Linked DNA regions of Homo sapiens. The protein of the gene in region 3 interacts with the protein of the main gene of each other region in a pairwise test. Each region holds a gene or a part of one and is shown on either strand. Other genes may lie near its edges.

Region 1 (3,711 bases), on a different chromosome or scaffold from region 3:
AGATTATGTCTTTTGCGGGAACATGGATGGAGCTGGAGGCTATTATTCTTAGCAAACTAACACAGTAACAGAAAACCAAATACTGCATGTTCTCACTTCTAAGTGGGAGCTAAATGGCAATAACTTATGACTACAAAGAAGGAAACAACAGACACTGGGGTCTACTTGATGGCGGAGGGTGGGAGGAGGAAGAAGAGCATAAAAGATAACTATTGGATACTGAACTTAATACCCGGGTGATGTAATAATATGTACAACAAACCCCTGTGACATGTGTTTGTCTATGTAACAAACCTTCATGTGGGCCCCCAAACCTAAAATTTAAAACAATTTTAAAGAAAGGACTTTCTGATTACATCATCGGTTTGATCAAGATTTGTTTGGTTAAGGGAATTTGAGTTGATACCACCTGACCTGAATTTCACAACTGATCCCAATATAAAATGAGTGTCCTGTTGTAGACCACAGGGAAACACTAAAGCTAATAGGGGAAATCTATAAAATTATTTTGACATTAACATTGAGGGATAAATTTGGACTTAATGTTTCATATTTATTTTCTGACACCAACATTAAAACAAGAGAATGCTCATTCCACAATGAGGAAATTTTCTAATGAATTTTATTATCACCAGCATCTTTAAAAATTAAGAGGAATTCTCTGAGAGTATATATAAAAAAGAAATTAAAGGCAAATATTTTGCTGTTAAGGATTTAAAAATAAACAGAAACATAGAGTATAAAATTTTCATTTCACTGTGCCCTCATTTAAAATTATAAGAATATAAGCAAATAACATCCAATGTCAGAAGAGATTCAGGGTGACCATTTGCAGTATTTAGTGGCAAATTAGTAGCATCATGAAAAATTTCAATTCATTTAAAAAAATAGCTTTCATTTAAATAATAATTACGTTTAGCTTTATCTCTGTATATAATTAGACTTTCTTTTGGCTTAGACAATTCCATTTTCTCCAACTGGGAGCTGTGAAGGATCAAGTCCTACTTTCTTCATTGATACGGCAATATCAAATAAATAGTCATAACACTCACACCTGTAAAAGAAAAAGCAAAAAGAACCAGTGTTTATCGAAACAGAGTTCTCCAATCCTAAAGAATCACATTTCTCCTCTCTTGCAGTTAACTCTGCTTTGTTCCTAGTATGTATTTTCTCTCAATTCTAGGCCAAAATTCTATTTTTCCCTCAACATTTTTAAAACACAGAAAGGAATCATATTAAGTCATGCAACAATATTACATACCTCTCAGGAAATAAAAGAGAGTTTAAAATATACTGCCTACATAAATTTACATTTTTTTTAAACTAGATGTCACTTTCTGAAATAGAACTTTTGTAACTTGGGATCTGTGTCTTCTTCCTCTATCAACATTCCTAGAGCCTTGCCAAACAACAGCTCATCCAATCAATACTTCTTCATGAATGGATACATAATAAAAATAAAGTATCTACAAATAATGATAAACAATTTAAATTTAAACCAACTGACATACTTTGTTTTCCTTCACATTTAGCGGGTGGTAACTTGTTCCCCATGTTCTCTGATTTACACTCACATGGTTTTGGCCTTCTCCCATGTTTCCCCCCACACATATACTCCATGACGTCTGACCAGTACTGCACAGGAGTCTGGGTATTCATTCATTGCATGAGCCATTCTATCTTTGAGGTCTTTCTCCTCAGGTGTATTCTCAATAATGGGTACCACTAACATATCATCATATCTGTAAGACAAAACAAGCCATTTTTTTCCATTAAAACAAATCAAGCATTGATATGTATACAACATGTAATTTTTTCAAGTAACCAGTTAGACATGCTGTTTGTGTCTGAAAAGCCACTCCAAATTATGAACAGGATGTTGCGTGTTATTCTGTGTACCTTGTATAAACATCTCTATCAAAAGGTACCTTGGGAATGTGGCAGGCTTGGTCTAATCCTAAGCCTAAGTGGTGGAAATTTGTAAAATATACCAAAACCTAACAAAGAAATCATCAAGATCATATAAATGTTTCCTTGAAGCAGGGACAATCATAATATTTATACAAGGAGATGGCAAATGATATATTTCAGAATCAGAAGCATAGAAAAGATTAAAAATTGAATTATATATTAAGAATTTCCCAATTAATACAAAATCACTGTATTTCATTTCTGCAGAATCCCAAAGTATCTGAGATAGGCAAATCAAAAAACACAAGCATGGTTTGTGGCACTAGGACAGCAAGAATGTTCTGGAGATAACTCTTAAAGGTACGACGCTTTCAGAACATTCTCAAATCTGTAGCATTAGAACTTCTTTTACTTCCACTGTCCTCTCAGGAAATACATGTGATGAAATCAGAATGTAATATTTAAACACATAATTGTCACTGGCAAAATTAAGTCTATTCTTGCAAAAACTCAGATAAGCTTTCCTTTTTACATGAATTTCTCTTGTTTTGTTAATGTAACATCTGCTTTTTCACTACTTCTATAGTGCTAAAAACTTAAAAAAAAAAGTTCTAGCTAAAGTATTCTGCAATTGCTACTGTAGGGCAAGCACAGACTAAGTAGTCATCATGTGACTGATAACTTGGCCAACCATTATCATTAAGAGTATAGAGTTGCCCATCACTTCACTTAAGTAAAACAGAGGTAATTATAGACTATCCTTAACTATGGCTAGGTGCATTGGCTCATAGCTATAATCCCAGCACTTTGGGAAGCCAAGGCAGATGGACTGTTTGAGCTCATGAATTTAAAACCAGCCTGGCCAACATGGTGAAACCCCATCTGTACAAAAAATACAAAAATCAGCCAGGTATGGTGGTGCATGCCTGTAGTCCCACCTACTCGGAAGACTGAGGTGAGAGAATGGCTTGAGCCTGGGAGGCGGAGGTTGCATAAGACAAGATCGAGACACTACACTCTAGCCTTGGCGACAGAGCCAGACTTAGTCTCAAAAAAAAAAGAAAAAAGTATCCTTAAATATTGAAGGAATGAATTGCTAGTCTCAAATCTTTCCTAATATTGGCCGAGAGAACCATAAACATATTTTTCTCTAGCATGCACTCAATAGTCAGAAATATTTTCAGGAGCAAAATAATTTCACAGCAAAGTAAGAACTGAAAGCGAATTCAAGCCAGTCCTCCCACTTTACAAACATGACACTGATCCAGACAAGTTAAATGAGAAAGAGAGCCAGGATAGCCCTTTGACCCTCAAAGAGTATTGTTTTCACTGTACCATAGAGACATTGCTTCTGAAAGGGAGTACAATTATAATATAAAGTTATGTATATGTATACATTATACAACTATAATATATGTATACATAGTATACATGTATATTATATATATTATATATACCTATATAATGTATACCTATATATGTATAGGTATACATGTATAACTATATATGTATATATATACCTATATAACTATATATGTATATTATATATGTATAGTTATACATGTATATATAACTATACATATATAGGTGTATATATATACATATAACTATACATATAAAGGTATATATATACACATATATAGGTATATACATATACATCAATGTCAGACCACAGATATGATGGTGGTCCTATAAGATTATAATGGAGCTGAAAAACTCCATTATACCTGCACAGACCTGGTGGACTGAACAAAGGGGGCGAACGTGGGAATAAAAGATAAAAACAAGAGAGTACGTTTG
Region 2 (7,126 bases), on a different chromosome or scaffold from region 3:
TAGAACCAGGAGGAACCTGCAGAGGCTTCCCCACTCCTACCCCTCAGGCTGGGCTAAGGGCCCCGGTTCTGCCCTGTCTTAAGAGTGGCCACACCTCAGCCTAGTTTTCAGCTCCTTAAAGCAAAACAGTATCTCCTCTGGGTCAGGAGGCTAAGCAGGTAGAACATGTGCAAGGAAGATTTTCAGAGCAGTGGGCTCCTTTCCTGCAGGGAACCAAGACTCCTGTGGTAAGGGGGTTGCCAGGAAAAGGACAGAATAAAGCAGCAGCCCATTCCACTGAGATGAGTGTCGTCATCAGCATCTTCTACCTGATCTGAGTTTCTTTATATGGAAAGTGGATTACCCAGCTAAAGACCCCCAAGTACTGTCATCTCTCCATGCTGTTTTCTCTGGAAGCGTTGAATAATGCCGCTACAGCTGCTGCTGCTATTGCTTGATTTGCAAGAGAAAGAGCAAAGTGCAAAATAAAAATATTTATCCCATGGTCATCTTGTGCTTCTCATACTCTAGCCCATCTGGACATCAGGGGCCTCTTTGAGGCACTCGGACCACATGTTTGCAACATTGGCTGTCATGCAGGCACTGGGCATCCCCTGCCAGCTCTTGCCCATGGACGGAAGGCACAAATGCCTGTGTCAGCTGATTAAAATGTTCTCAGTCAACATGTCTAGACAAGTATCCACTTATCTTACACCCAGAAATGATTGTGGCCATAGCTACGTTTAGCCATAACATTGACCTGCTTGTTAACATTGTTCCTGAGTTGCTGCCTCCCCCTCATTCTCTTTTGTCTTCCCATTCAGTGGCTTATGTGTGTGTTTTAATACCTGTTTTGTTAGGTTTCTGTTTCAATTCAACAGATTATTTTAAGGCTGGAGGAAAGGAAACCATGCCAAAAGACCAGGTGTTCTTGCTTTCAGAAATGCAGAAATGGACAGGTTTTCTTTATTGCACATCTTGCAGGAGTCGAGGCCTAAAGTTGTTTATGTCTCTGACTCTATGATGGCAGCTCCATCAGGTGGCACAGGGCAGTACACTAGCCTTCCAGCTGTCCACCAGCCTCCCCCAAACCATCACAAATCAACACCTAGGTTCAAGTAAAAGCCACATGCCTGCCCTCCAGGTGCCCATCCCTGCCTGTCTCTAGCCTCATATCTCTGTCCCACACCCTCCTGTGGCCACCAAAGGTGACCGGGAGCTTCTGATGAAGGGTGCCCATTGGCAAGCTTATGCCTCCCCTTGGTCAATATATGCGTTCCATCCAAGAGGATAGAAATTGGGTTCTCACCGACACAATCAAACTTGAAATACCCAAAGACATTTTTTCTACTAAAAGAAACAAGTCTTGGGTGAATCCTTTCACATCTCAGTTTTCTCATCTGCAAAATGGGAATAATAGTGGTTCCTAATTCACTGGGCATTGACGAGGGTTACAGGATTTAAATCATGTAAAGCACTTAGAAGAGGCCTGACCAGCCCTAATCTACTCAGCTCCTTTTATCTTCACTGAATGAATGAATGAATGAATGAATGCAAATTGAGCCTCTACAAACATGTCGTAAGTGAAAAACGCACATGCAGATTTGATTAGTGACATAACAAGAAGTGGAAAAAAATCACCTCTTAGATGTGGACATGTTTAGTACTTTATGTTTGCAGTTTGCACTGTGAAATACCTTTTTTTTTTCCAGGACTACACTTTGTTATATGAAGAGGCAAAATATTTTCAGCTTCAGCCCATGTTGTTGGAGATGGAAAGATGGAAGCAGGACAGAGAAACTGGTCGATTTTCAAGGCCCTGTGAGTGCCTCGTCGTGCGTGTGGCCCCAGACCTCGGAGAAAGGATCACGCTAAGCGGTGACAAATCCTTGATAGAAGAAGTATTTCCAGAGATCGGCGACGTGATGTGTAACTCTGTCAATGCAGGCTGGAATCACGACTCGACGCACGTCATCAGGTTTCCACTAAATGGCTACTGTCACCTCAACTCAGTCCAGGTATAGCATTGTTACGCACTGTGTGGCATCAAATGCCACTCTTACTGTTGTCACTTAACCTTGCCCTCACATGGTGCCTTTCCTCCAAAGAGCTTAGAAACTCACTCAGTGACACTTCTGTTGGGTAGGTGAATTATCACCCTCTATAGCAGTCATTCCGTAAGTCTTGTGATTGTGCCAGGTGCTGGGATGAGCACTGGAGATACAGAAGAGACAGATATAGAACACGACAGCTGGGCACGGTGGCACACGCCTATAGTCCCAGCCACTCCAGAGGCTAAGGCAGGAGGATCACTTGAGCCCAGGAGTTCAGGTTCAGCCTGGGCAACATAGTGAGACAGACAGACACAGAACACGATGGACAGCTCTGTGTTCATGGAACTGCATTATGGGAGTGGAGTGGGAGGCAAACAGTCAACATAAATATATTGCCCAGGAGGTGGTAAGTGGATTTCTGGGGCAGAGTATGCTGGCATATTGAGGACTATCAGGAAAGCCAGTTTGGCTTGAAGAAAGTGACTCAGGGAGAGAGAGTACCCAGACAGGAGGCCCGGGAAAATCAGGGACAGATCACGGAGAGCCTCGTTAGGAGGTGGCAAGTGCCCTAGGATTGTTTATTTTGGCATCTTTTGGTTTTGGTTCGTTTGTGTATGTGAGCCAAATGGAAATCCATTGGAGGGTTTTGAGCAGAAGGGAGAACTGACAGAACTCGTATTTTAAAGTGAACATTGCGACAGCAGCTAGAGAATAGGAGAAACAAGGAGACCAGGCAGCAAGCTGTGGTTCAAGCAGCTGAAAAGTGTCCAGTTGTGTGTGTCTGGAGGGTAGAGCTAATAAGGTTTTCTGACGATGGCTGTGGGTTGTGAGACATAAGCCCGGGATGACTAAGATTTTTGACAGAGGAACTGGGTGAGTGGAACTGCCATTTCCTGAGATGGAGAAGTGTAGGGGAGCAAGAGATGTGGGGGTGGAATTGAGAACTCAGAGGCTAATGTGTGCTGAGCACCGACTCTCTGCCCTACCCTGGGCCATGGCCTGAGCATGTGTTGTCTTCTTACAACCCTAACAGGTAAGCACTGTTAATCCTCTCTGTCTTGCTGATGGGAAGGCAGAGGCACACCTGGGTCTCGATTCCAGCTCCGTGTGACACAAAACCATTTGAAGTCAATGGAGTGAGGGTTCTAGTTTTTTCCCTCTTTTTAACTGGAATGGGCCCATGACTTTGTTCAGTATTTAGTCAGCAGAACCCTTCCCAAAGCACAGAGACTAGAAGCACCCACTCTTCTGTGCTGCCTCTTGAGGATTGTTCCACTACTATTTATAACTCTTTAAAATATATGAACAGATGTCTGAGAACAGAAGAGCAGAAAACTGGCAGAAAATGTTCCCTAAGCATGCTAGCGGAAGGCACATGCTCCCAGGCGGCGGGCTGGCTGCTGGGTCGCAGGGTTCCCGAGGACGAGATTCGCGTTCTCACCTGTGCGGAGAGCGTCCCCTGGAGGTGTGTGGTGCTCCCGCATGGCCCTGCACAGCGTTCCTGAGACGGCCTCAGCAGTTTAAGCCTCTTTAAAGCCCAGAAAGCCTGTCCCCTTCCACACAACAGCCTGCCCTGGCTATCACTGGAGCAGACAGAGGGGCAGAACCATTCAGAGCCAGGACAGGAAGGCCTCGGCCACACCTTTGGGCCAGTGAATAACGATCATCAATTCATGTGCTTGACAGTTTCCCACATCAGATATGGAAATTTTCATCTGGATTAACGTGGTCATATGACACAGCCATGACCTACCCTTGCGTCCTGCTCCACCGACCAAGAAATAGGCACCAGCCTATGGGCACGCAGAGACTCTGGGATAAGGCTTACGACACCCGATACCTCACTAAGTTGTTGTGTGATCACTGTTTAAGGAACTTTGCTGTGAACGTGTTGTTGTTTCCAAAGTAATGGCTCCATCAGCTGTTTGCATTACATTGAAATAAGCTTTTGACCACATCCAAGGTAACATTGGATCACATTGAATAATTATCACATGATGCCTATCGGACTCCGAAGAAGAGCTTAGCGATTTCCTCCTGTTAGCATTTAGTGACCTTAAGACTCAAAGAAAAATGGACATCAGGGTTAGGTTCTCTGCTGTTCATGGCTTCCTCCCCTTTGGATTTCCTCTCCTAATCATGGCAAGGGATCTTTTCCAGGGTGCTGGTTTGGCCAAGCAAGCTGGGATGCCTCTTGCTGAGGGCTGCATTCCTGCCTCTGCTGGGGAATCCATGGAGGGAGCTGTTCTTCGTCTTTGTATTTACCTGCCACCAAAGCACATCTTGATTTTGAATTTAGGGATTGTTTTCTTCCTGTCCTTATGCTGACAGGTATGCATATGCATTGTGAATTTACCTACAGAAATAGAGCACTGCTGGGTAGAATGTTAATTTTGTTCTTATAAGGACTTGTGTATGTTTTTTTAATTTGCCAGCACTTGAGGTTTTAATTAATTTTTAGAAAACATACTCTCTTGCTTTCCCATCTCATCTAGTAAGCTGTTTTGCAACATAGCAGACTATATTCTATATTGAAGTAGGCAACTAAAAAATAATACTTTTTAAAAAAGTAAGGATTCACTTTACATTGACTACATTTCAGTTCATTCCAATAAAAGTTTTTTTGAGGTGGGTTTTTTTGTTTTGTTTTTTTTTTTTAAGTTATGATTGAATCACTTTGCCTTTAAGGTGGTGTGGAAGTAATTTAATTATATTCAGAACTCGGGCAGGAAACATTTGCAAGTCTAATATTTGTTGGATTCCTAAAGAAACAGAATGCTCCAGATCAGTTTCCTGTATTTTTGTCTATCTAATCTAAGAGTCACAGGTACTGTTTCCTGCATTTAACAGTGTCAGACATGTAGTGCCAAACCCAGGAATCTTGCTGGCGTTAGGTTTTTGATTTCAAAATTAAGGAACAGATTCTATGGCTTACATTTGTATAAGAAGTTTAGAATATCTTTATTTTTCTTACATTTTCTAATATGTAATCATTGTGCTGGTTCTTGTCTCCTTGAATGAATGCAGGGCAATAAATCTGTTTCAGATGTTACAAACTTGAAAACCTGTAGATAATCCTCTAGTGTCTTCAGTAATCCCTTTGTTCTGCTATTGAAATTACATCAATCTTCCAGGCCAAAACATATATATTAACTCGGTATTAGGAAAACTTGAACAAAGGCGGAGTTGAGAGTACAAATGAATCACTGACTAAGTAAACTCTGCCATCACTGTCCTTTCCAGATTCTTTATCATCTCATAGGATGTATTTTAGTGATAAATGAGCTTTGAAATGTGAACCCTCATTTTTGACAGAGAGGGCAGCATTGCATATACAAAAACAGGAGATTTGAGGCCAAACAGACCTGAGTTGGAAACCCAGTCCCATCACTGACTAGCCATGAACCTCAGTTTTCTCATTTATAAAATGGGCCTAACACCATCGAGTGTTGTAGCTGGTGTGTGTAAAGCAAGCATGAAAGGCACATTTTAGGCATTAGAAATGCTTGCTTCCTCTCTCCTGCCCATTAATCCAGGGTCTTCCTTTGAGAGGAGCAGCTCACAGGGACATGGGTGCTGGATGAGATGAACCAGAGTGCGCATAATCTCAAACTTTGGGGTGTTTATGTAGCCATAGGACTTACCTCACCCCTAACTGGATGCTTGTCTTGTTCCCTCGCAGGTCCTCGAGAGGTTGCAGCAAAGAGGATTTGAAATCGTGGGCTCCTGTGGGGGAGGAGTAGACTCGTCCCAGTTCAGCGAATACGTCCTTCGGCGGGAACTGAGGCGGACGCCCCGTGTACCCTCCGTCATCCGGATAAAGCAAGAGCCTCTGGACTAAATGGACATATTTCTTATGCAAAAAGGAAAACACACACAACCAATAACTCAAACAAAAAAGGGACATTTATGTGCAGTTGGGACAGCAAACCAAGTCCTGGACGTAAAATCGAATAAAAGACACATTTATATCCAATAGAGACCACACCTGTATTCATATGGGAACAATTGGAATAGTGATATCCTCAAGGTGTAAAAAATATATAAATATATATATATATGTCAAAAGGTAGGAAATGCAAAAAAGAAAAAAAAAAAAGGTGACAGCCGCAGTTGGTGCTGTGATGGCCGTGAAGTGTCCTGGGCCTTCCGAGGCCTCTGACAAATAAACAAGCCATGAGTGGTGAGGACACAGTCTCCTTACAGTTTCCATTGCCAACAACAGCCATCCATATTTCTTTTTTCCTTTGTCTTTCTTTTTCCTTTTTTTTTAAAAAAACAAAACAAACAAAACACCTTGAATCAAGTTTGTTTGTATATGGAGGTTCCACGTCTTTCTTTAGGCAGGGACCAGGCAGGACTTCAGAAAAACCCTCATGAGCACATTGCAAAGATGTTAGACATGAAATTTTAAATGTAGTTTGTACAGAAGTCACACTTTTTTGTCCACCTCACAGATGTGAACTTTACTTTGTTTTAAAACTGATCAGTTTTGCCAAGGGGCCAGAATTATTCCTTGTTAGAATTGCTCCAGTTCAAGTCTGCTGCTTTCCTACAATTTTTCAAATTTTATAATGTATTAAATACAATAAACTCTGTTTAAAAAATAAGGTCTGTGTGAAACACACATGTGGGGGTGAGGCTGGATTAAAGTGAAATTTTTTCTTTTTGAAATTGTCCGTGTTGAGCATCAAAAAGAGGCATGAAAGCCGGGGTCAGTTTTGAAGTCAAAACCTACTAAAGGCTAAGGATGTCATCACCTGTTCCAGACAGTTGTCTTCCGACCCAGCAAATGTTATTTCCTGTGCTTTGTTATTCTGCATTGGTCAGCAAGGTAAATCTTCCTTCTTACGGACTTTTCGGTTACACCTATTTCAGTTATCTGGCTGCAGAGCAAGTCACACCAAAATTTAATGGCTTAAAACATTTTGTTCTGGCCTGTGATACTGGCCTTCGCTGGGCTGCATCTGCTCCATGTCTGCTCCACTGCTCCAATCCAGGGGTCTGATTGGCGTGGAATGTCCTAGATGGCTCACCCAGATGGCTGCAAATACTTGGCTGTTGGCCTCTATGTGGCTTGGGCCCCTCTCAAC
Region 3 (7,126 bases):
CCTGACCTCAAGTGATCCGCCCACCTTGGCCTCCCAAAGTGCTGGGATTATAGGTGTGAGCCACTGTGCCTGGTCCATGTTTTCTTTATCCATTTGACTATCCATGGACATTTGAGTTTTTCCCCCTTATTGGCAATTCTTCTGCCTCAGCCTCCCAAGTAGCTGGGATTACAGACGTCTGCCACCACGCCCAACTAATTTTTGTATTTTTAGTAGAGACGGTTTCACCATATTGGCCAGGCTGGTCTTGAACTCTGACCTCAGGTGATCCACCCTCCTCGGCCTCCTAAAGTGCTGGGATTATAGGCATTTATTTACCGTTCTGCTTTCCCTTTGCTAGCAGGAATTTTCTTTCTCTCTCTCTCTCTTTTTTTTTTTTTTTTTTTTTTGCTTTATTGGGAGAAAAAGTGCTTAGAGTGTTCAGTTATTTTTTATATTTTTCTAATTCATTTCTTCTCTGGTTACAAATCAGTCATGCATGGATGTTTTATTTTTTCTGAAATCTCCAAGCACTTTAAGCAAAGGTTTTTATTAGCCCACTTGAGTAGTGTGTTCATGGGAGTATACTTCCATTGCGAAAGAAGTATTGGTTTACTTGTATCCAGAAGTTTTAGTTACTCTTGCCTGTACTGTATTCTAGGTCTGTACTAGCATTATAATTTTCCATCTTTCTCCTGTCCTTTGAGTACCTTATTTTTTCTTTTAGAAATTTGGTTTGTCTTTAATGGACTGAGAGGAATCTTTTCCTTTCTTTCTCCGGGTTCTGATTTTTTTTAAAGGTCTATTAACAATTTGTGCTTACTGTTGTTAGTATTCTTGTGTGCTTGGCTTTATCAGGCATCCTACAATGTAATGTTGGTTAGATGGGAATTAGAGGTGCTTGGAGGTTGGCTATGTCTGCCAACAGGCAGGAGGCCCCAAACTAACGTTTCCCAGTTCCATTAAAGGTTTCTAGAGCATAACTACTCTTCCTGTTTCATCTACCCCCTCCATACCCTCTTTGCTAACATTCTCAGTAGATCTTAATAAGCAGATGTCTGGAATTACAGCAGATTTTACCTCAAACAGTATTTTCAGATTTAGAATTTCTGTATCATTTTTAGGTGTTATGAAATCCAATCTAGGTGTAATGGAGTAAGAGAGTAAATATTTCTTTTTCCTAAATACTATTTGAAAAGAAGTCTGAAAATAGTGTGTTCCTCCACCCCCCCACCCATGCCCATCCTGCCAGTTTAGGAGCACTTTTGATTCTTTTTTTTCTTTTTCTTTTTTTTTTTGAGATGGAGTTTCACTCTTGTTGCCCAGACTGGAGTGCAATGACACAATCTCAGCTCACCACAACCTCTGCCTCCTGGGTTCAAGCGATTCTCCCGCCTCAGCCTCCCGAGTAGCCGGGATTATAGGTATGTGCCACCACACCTGGCTAATTTTGTATTTTTAGTAGAGACGGGGTTTCTTCATGTTGGTCAGGCTGGTCTCGAACTCCCGACCTCAGGTAATCCACCTGCCTCGGCCTCCCAAAGTGCTGGGAGCGAGCCACCATGCCTGGCCATGGAGCACTTTTGTTTCTTAATCTGGCCAATATTTTAAGGTTACAATTAGAATTACAGTTGTTTATATTTGTTCATTTAATGTAGTCAACATAATTTCCATACTTTGAACACTCTTACGGAATTGTTTATTTATAGAGACTAGTATAAAGTTGTTCTATCTTACTTAGTTTGAACTAATCCAGAGTTATACAATCTAGAAAGTAAAGAAAGTTTTTATTGTCTCTTAAATATCAATGTAATTGTAGAGTGTGAAATAATTTCTTGGGTTTCCTTGGTCCCGTGTTCTTCTGAGGCAGTGGTTCTTAACTGAGCAGTCACGTTAGAATCACCTGGGAAGCTTTTTAAAAAAAGAATCTGGGCTGGGCGCGGTGGCTCACGCCTGTAATCACAGCACTTTGGGAGGCCGAGGCGGGTGGATCATGAGGTCAGGAAATCGAGACCATCCTGGCTAACACAGTGAAACCCCGTCTCGACTAAAAATACAAAAAAATTAGCTGGGTGTGGTGGTGGGCGCCTGTAGTCCCAGCTACTCGGGAGGCTGAGGCAGGAGAATGGCGCGAACCCGGGAGGCGGAGCTTGCAGTGAGCCGAGATCGTGCCACTGCACTCCAGCCTGGGCAACAGAGTGAGACTCTGTCTCAAAAAAATAAAAATAAAAATAAATAAACAAATAAACAATCTGGCCGGGAACAGTGGCCTACGCCTGTAATCCCAGCACTTTGGGAGGCCAAGGCAGGCGGATCGCCTGAGGTCAGGAGTTCAAGACCAGCCTGGCCAACGTGGCGAAACCCCATCTCTACTAAAAATATAAAAATTAGCCAGGCGTGATGGGCACCTGTAATCCCAGCTACTCAGGAGGCTGAGTCCGGGAGAAGCACTTGAACCCAGGAGGCGGAGGTTGCATTGAGCCGAGATCGCGCCATTGCACTCCAGCCTGCAGCCTGGGCGACAGAGCGAGACTCTGTCTCAAAAAAAAAAAAAAAAGAATCTGTGCCTCACCCCTAGCAATTCAATTCTGTTTGGGCTAAGCCTGGGTTGGGACTCAGACATCAATACAGCTCTGCATAGAAGGTTTTACAGTATAGTCAGCAATAAGAACCTCTGTTTCAGGATAAAATGATTTCTACAAACATTGTTTCATTCTCTACATAATTAAATGTCACACCTCTACAGTCATGTGAAAGTTCCATTAAAAAGTTAGTCGCTATATAAAGTCTTTTATCATATGGCACTTGAAATATTTTGCTTTTGCCTTTGTATTTATAGCCATGAGTAAGTAGCTCAAAAAAGATGTACATATTCCTCTGCCAACTTTCCTGTCTCCTTGTCTGAATGAAAATTCATCATAAAGTCTCAGTGGTAAGCATTGACAGAGAAAATACCTAAGACTGTTTTCCTACAGAAACAGTCGTCTTGCTCTTTTTGTTCCTTTTTTATTAAGGATTCTTACAGCCTGAGAGAATGAAGAGCTGTGTAGTCCAGGATATCCGGCTGGCTACCATAGATCTGAGAGTCCAGTCTAGTACAGTAGATTTTTCTAAATACATAAGAATCAAAGATATGTATTGAATATCAAGCCAGCTTTAAACAAACATAGATACTAGTATAAAGTTGTTCCATCTTAATTTGAAGTAATCCAGAGTTACTACAATCTAGAAGGTAAAGAAGGTTTTTGTAATCTCTTAAATATCAATGCTAAAACTATTATGATAATGTATCACTTTGATAACAGATAAAACTTTTAAAAATGTAGCACTCATATTTTGATTCTGGTATTTATAAGTATAATAAAATACTTTATTTTTCCATAATTTCTCTCACATCTTAAAATTCTCACCAGAAATTCTCAAATGTAACTTCTAAGCTCTTTCTGTATTCATGGGAAACTTTAGCTATTTCACATACTAGAGAAAATAAAATAGACAGTCAAAGAATGATGAGCAAAGGCTATACAAAAAGTCTAGCTAATAATTTGCAGAGTAGGTTGTATTAGAAAATGTTCTAATAACTCAATGGAATGGGGCTATTGATTTGAAGTAAAATCTGGTATATTACAACATCAAAGATCTCCTATTATGCAAAACAAGTTTGAATGCACCTCATGTGTACTTGGTGTTTTTTTTTTAATAGATTTTAATTTGTTTCATTTTATACACTTGAAAAGTTTACTCCCTTATTTGATTCAACATATTTGCAAAATCTGCCAACAGTGTAAATGTTGAAAGTTCTAGATGGGGTTTTGAAGAAAGGGCCCTGGGTTTAAACTCAGTCTTGATGTATTATCAGCACCATTTAATAGCTAGTTGTTTGACTTCAGGTATGTTTCCTGCCTTCTCTGAGCCTGTGGTTTCTCAGCCATAAAATAGAGCTGATAGTACCTGCTCTACTACCTCACAAGATTTAAAAGAAAAAAAGATAGTGTAGGGCAGTGGTTCTCAAAGTGTAGTCCAAGGAGCCACTGGAGGTTTCATGGGTCAATAAGGATCTCCCTTATGTAAGAACAGATTCTCAATATACTTGAACCAAAACAAGAGATGACAACAGATTGAATGCAGAATCAGATAAGAGAGTCCAGCTGTATCTGTTAAAGCCAGATATTAAAGAGGATTGCAAAATGTAAATTAATATCACCCTTCTCACTTGTTTTTGAAAAATTTTTTAGGAAAAAATATGTTAATATGTAATGGGTTTATTGCTATTTTAAATATTTTAAAATTTCTTTTAATTTTGAATATAGTAAATATTGATAAATATAACCTATATAAACAACAGCTCTTCACAATCTCTAATACTTTTTTTTTGAGATGGAGTCTCGCTCTGTAGCCCAGGCTGGAATGCAGTGGTGTGATCTCGGCTCACTGCAACCTCTTCCTCCCAGGTCCCGGTTCAAACAGTTCTCCTGCCTCAGCCTCCCGAGTAGCTGGGATTACAGGCACACGCCACTGTGCCCAGCTTTTTTTTTTGTATTTTTAGTAGAGACGGGGTTTCACCATGTTGGCCAGGCTGGTCTTGAACTCCTGACCTTGTGATCCGCCTGCCTTGGCCTCCCAAAGTGCTGGGATTACAGGCGTGAGCCACCGTGACTGGTCTGTAATACTTTTTAGAGTGTGAGTGGATCTTGAGACCACAGCTTTTTAGAACTGCTGATAAACAGTAATGGTTGAGTAGGGCTGCTCTGCCTATGGAGTAGCCATTCTTTTATTTATTTTCTAATAAATTGCTTTCGTTTAAAAAGAACACAATGTTGGGGGAGGGGGTAATGGTTGAATAGTTCCTATCAGGACAGTTTCCTGCAGATAACTATAAACTTGATACACTTTTTTTTTTTTTCCTTTTGAGATGGAGTTTCGCTCTTGTTGCCCAGGTTGGAGTGCAGTAGCGTGATCTCAGCTTACCGCAACCTCTGCCTCCCAGGTTCAAGCAGTTCACCTGCCTCAGCCTCCAGAGTAGCTGGGATTACAGGCATGTGCCACCACACCCGCTAATTTTGTATTTTTAGTAGAGATGGGGTTTCTCCATGTTGGCCAGGCTGGTCTCGAACTCCCGACCTCAGGTGATCTGCCCGCCTCTGCCTCCCAAAGTTCTGGGATTACAGGCATGAGCCACTACGCCCAGCTGATAAAAGTTTTAAAAATTAATAGATGGCATTTGAGAATTACAAAAACTAGATTGAGGTCTGCAACTGGAAGAGGAGAACAGCAATGAATAAGCTTCTGTTTTTATGGCTTTTAGACTGGCATAAGGTCCCAGCTGGTGATATGAAGAGGTGGCTACAACTGTAATAACAACCTGTAATCTCTCTTGAAGAAAAGAGGACAGAGCTCACAGTGATCATGCAGCTGGAAAGTGCAGGAGAAAATCCTAGAAAGAATGTTGGAGTGGCAGAACCCCAAACACTGTTTATAAACTCTGCTTGAATTTCTTGCAAACCCCTCAACTGTACATGTGTGGAGCAGCCTCCAAACAGCACACTTAAGGCTAAAGGAGCAGAGATTTCAGCTGCTGTCCACCATAGGGGAGGCAGAACTTGGAGTTTAAGTCCAGCTAAGGTAATTGTCTGCAAAAAACAAAAACACAAACACTCTTTGGAAGAATATTACAGAATCTAGAGTGAATTGTATTAATCACAATACCTAGACTATAATCCAGAAACAATCACCCTAATCAGTGGAGACTGACCCCATAATTAGCCAAAGGTTGGATTTAGCAGAGAAGATTTAAAGCAGCAGCTATTATAACTATGCTCAAGGATGTAAAGCAAAATGTTGTATATGTGAACAAATAGGAAATCTCAGCAGAGAATTAGAAACTTTAAAAAAGAATGAAATGAAAATTTTACATCTGAAAATACAATATCTGAAACAATCTTGAATAGATTTAACAGATCAGATATGACAGATAAGTCATTTAATTTGAGGATAGATTAATAGAAATTATCTAATCTGAAGTAGAGAAATAAGTTATTGTATATGAAAGTTCTCTGTAAACTTCAGTGCTCTATGTAAGTTTCAGAGTTTATTACTCCAGGTTTCTTTCATATGTAAAGGGAAGAGGTATGTTTGGGTCTTCTGATCTGCAGCTTCCTTAATGTCCTGTCCTGTCATGTCTGTGTCTAAGCTTTATACCCTCTGGTTTCTTTATTTTTATTTTTTTATTTTTTTTTGAGACAGAGTCTCGCTCTGTTGCCCAGGCTGGAGTGCAGTGGATCTCAGCTCACTGCAACCTCTGCCTCCTGGGTTCAAGTGATTCTTCTGCCTCAACCTCCCAAGTAGCTGGGATTACAGGCATGTGCTACCACACCTGGCTAATTTTTGTATTTTGAGTAGAGACGGGGTCTCACCATGTTGTTCAGGTTGGTCTCAAACTCCTGGCCTCAAGTGGTCCACTCACCTTGTCCTCCCAAAGGGCTGGGATTACAGGCGTGGGCCACTGCGCTTGGCCTAGCCTCTGGTTTCTAATATCCCCTGCAGTCAGATATTTGGCCCTTGCTGCTTTCCTGTACTATTGTCAGAGGTTACCAGGAATCTTTTGGTCAGTACACTCGACATGTTTGTAATGGGCCTCACCCCCATGTTTCTCTTCAGTGTTTTGCACCATTGCCATCTCCTTTCTGCAAGGTCATTGCCTTTCCTCAATGACGATGTTTTCTTTTTTCTCCTCCTCTGTCTTATTTTGTCTTTTCTGTTTTCCAAAGATTCATTCTTAGCTTTTTTCCCTCTTATTTCATTCTACTTTTTAGTCTACTTTATTATTTTCATACTTGGTTACTTCAGCCTTGTCGTTTCAGAGGCCTCTTCTCCCTCTCTGGCTCTGCTCTCTCTAGAGCCCTGTCCTGCTTCTTGTCCCCGCTGATCACTAAACATTTCTACTTAGATACCTGGTAGACACTTGGAGCTCAGAGTGTCTGAAGTGAAACCCCTATTCTTCTTCTTCTTTTTTTTTTTTTTGAGGTGGGGTCTCAGAACCTCTTATCAAGACGGTTTCTGTACTTCTTCTCTAATGTTCTGGGACTCTGCCTTTATATCAACACCTAGCACATGGCAGTTACTCTGAAAATGTAATCTGAAGGAATGG

The links.
Region 1: the proteins of ZBTB25 (region 3) and APIP interact in binary tests that used the Homo sapiens proteins (3 or more experiments, as listed by UniProt).
Region 2: the proteins of ZBTB25 (region 3) and KCTD1 interact in binary tests that used the Homo sapiens proteins (3 or more experiments, as listed by UniProt).

The regions. Positions count from the first base shown.
Region 1 is NC_000011.10:34,881,763-34,885,473, forward strand, and holds the end of APIP (methylthioribulose-1-phosphate dehydratase), read right to left. Parts: intron 1,743-3,711; coding exon 1,575-1,742; intron 1,055-1,574; coding exon 955-1,054; 3' UTR 533-954; downstream 1-532. UniProt on the Homo sapiens protein: Catalyzes the dehydration of methylthioribulose-1-phosphate (MTRu-1-P) into 2,3-diketo-5-methylthiopentyl-1-phosphate (DK-MTP-1-P).
Region 2 is NC_000018.10:26,454,491-26,461,616, reverse strand, and holds the end of KCTD1 (BTB/POZ domain-containing protein KCTD1), read left to right. Parts: intron 1-1,691; coding exon 1,692-1,997; intron 1,998-5,715; coding exon 5,716-5,874; 3' UTR 5,875-6,707; downstream 6,708-7,126. UniProt on the Homo sapiens protein: May repress the transcriptional activity of AP-2 family members, including TFAP2A, TFAP2B and TFAP2C to various extent.
Region 3 is NC_000014.9:64,493,718-64,500,843, reverse strand, and holds part of ZBTB25 (zinc finger and BTB domain-containing protein 25), read left to right. Parts: intron 1-390; exon of another isoform or gene 391-1,403; intron 1,404-2,851; exon of another isoform or gene 2,852-2,911; intron 2,912-5,284; exon of another isoform or gene 5,285-5,601; intron 5,602-7,126. UniProt on the Homo sapiens protein: May be involved in transcriptional regulation.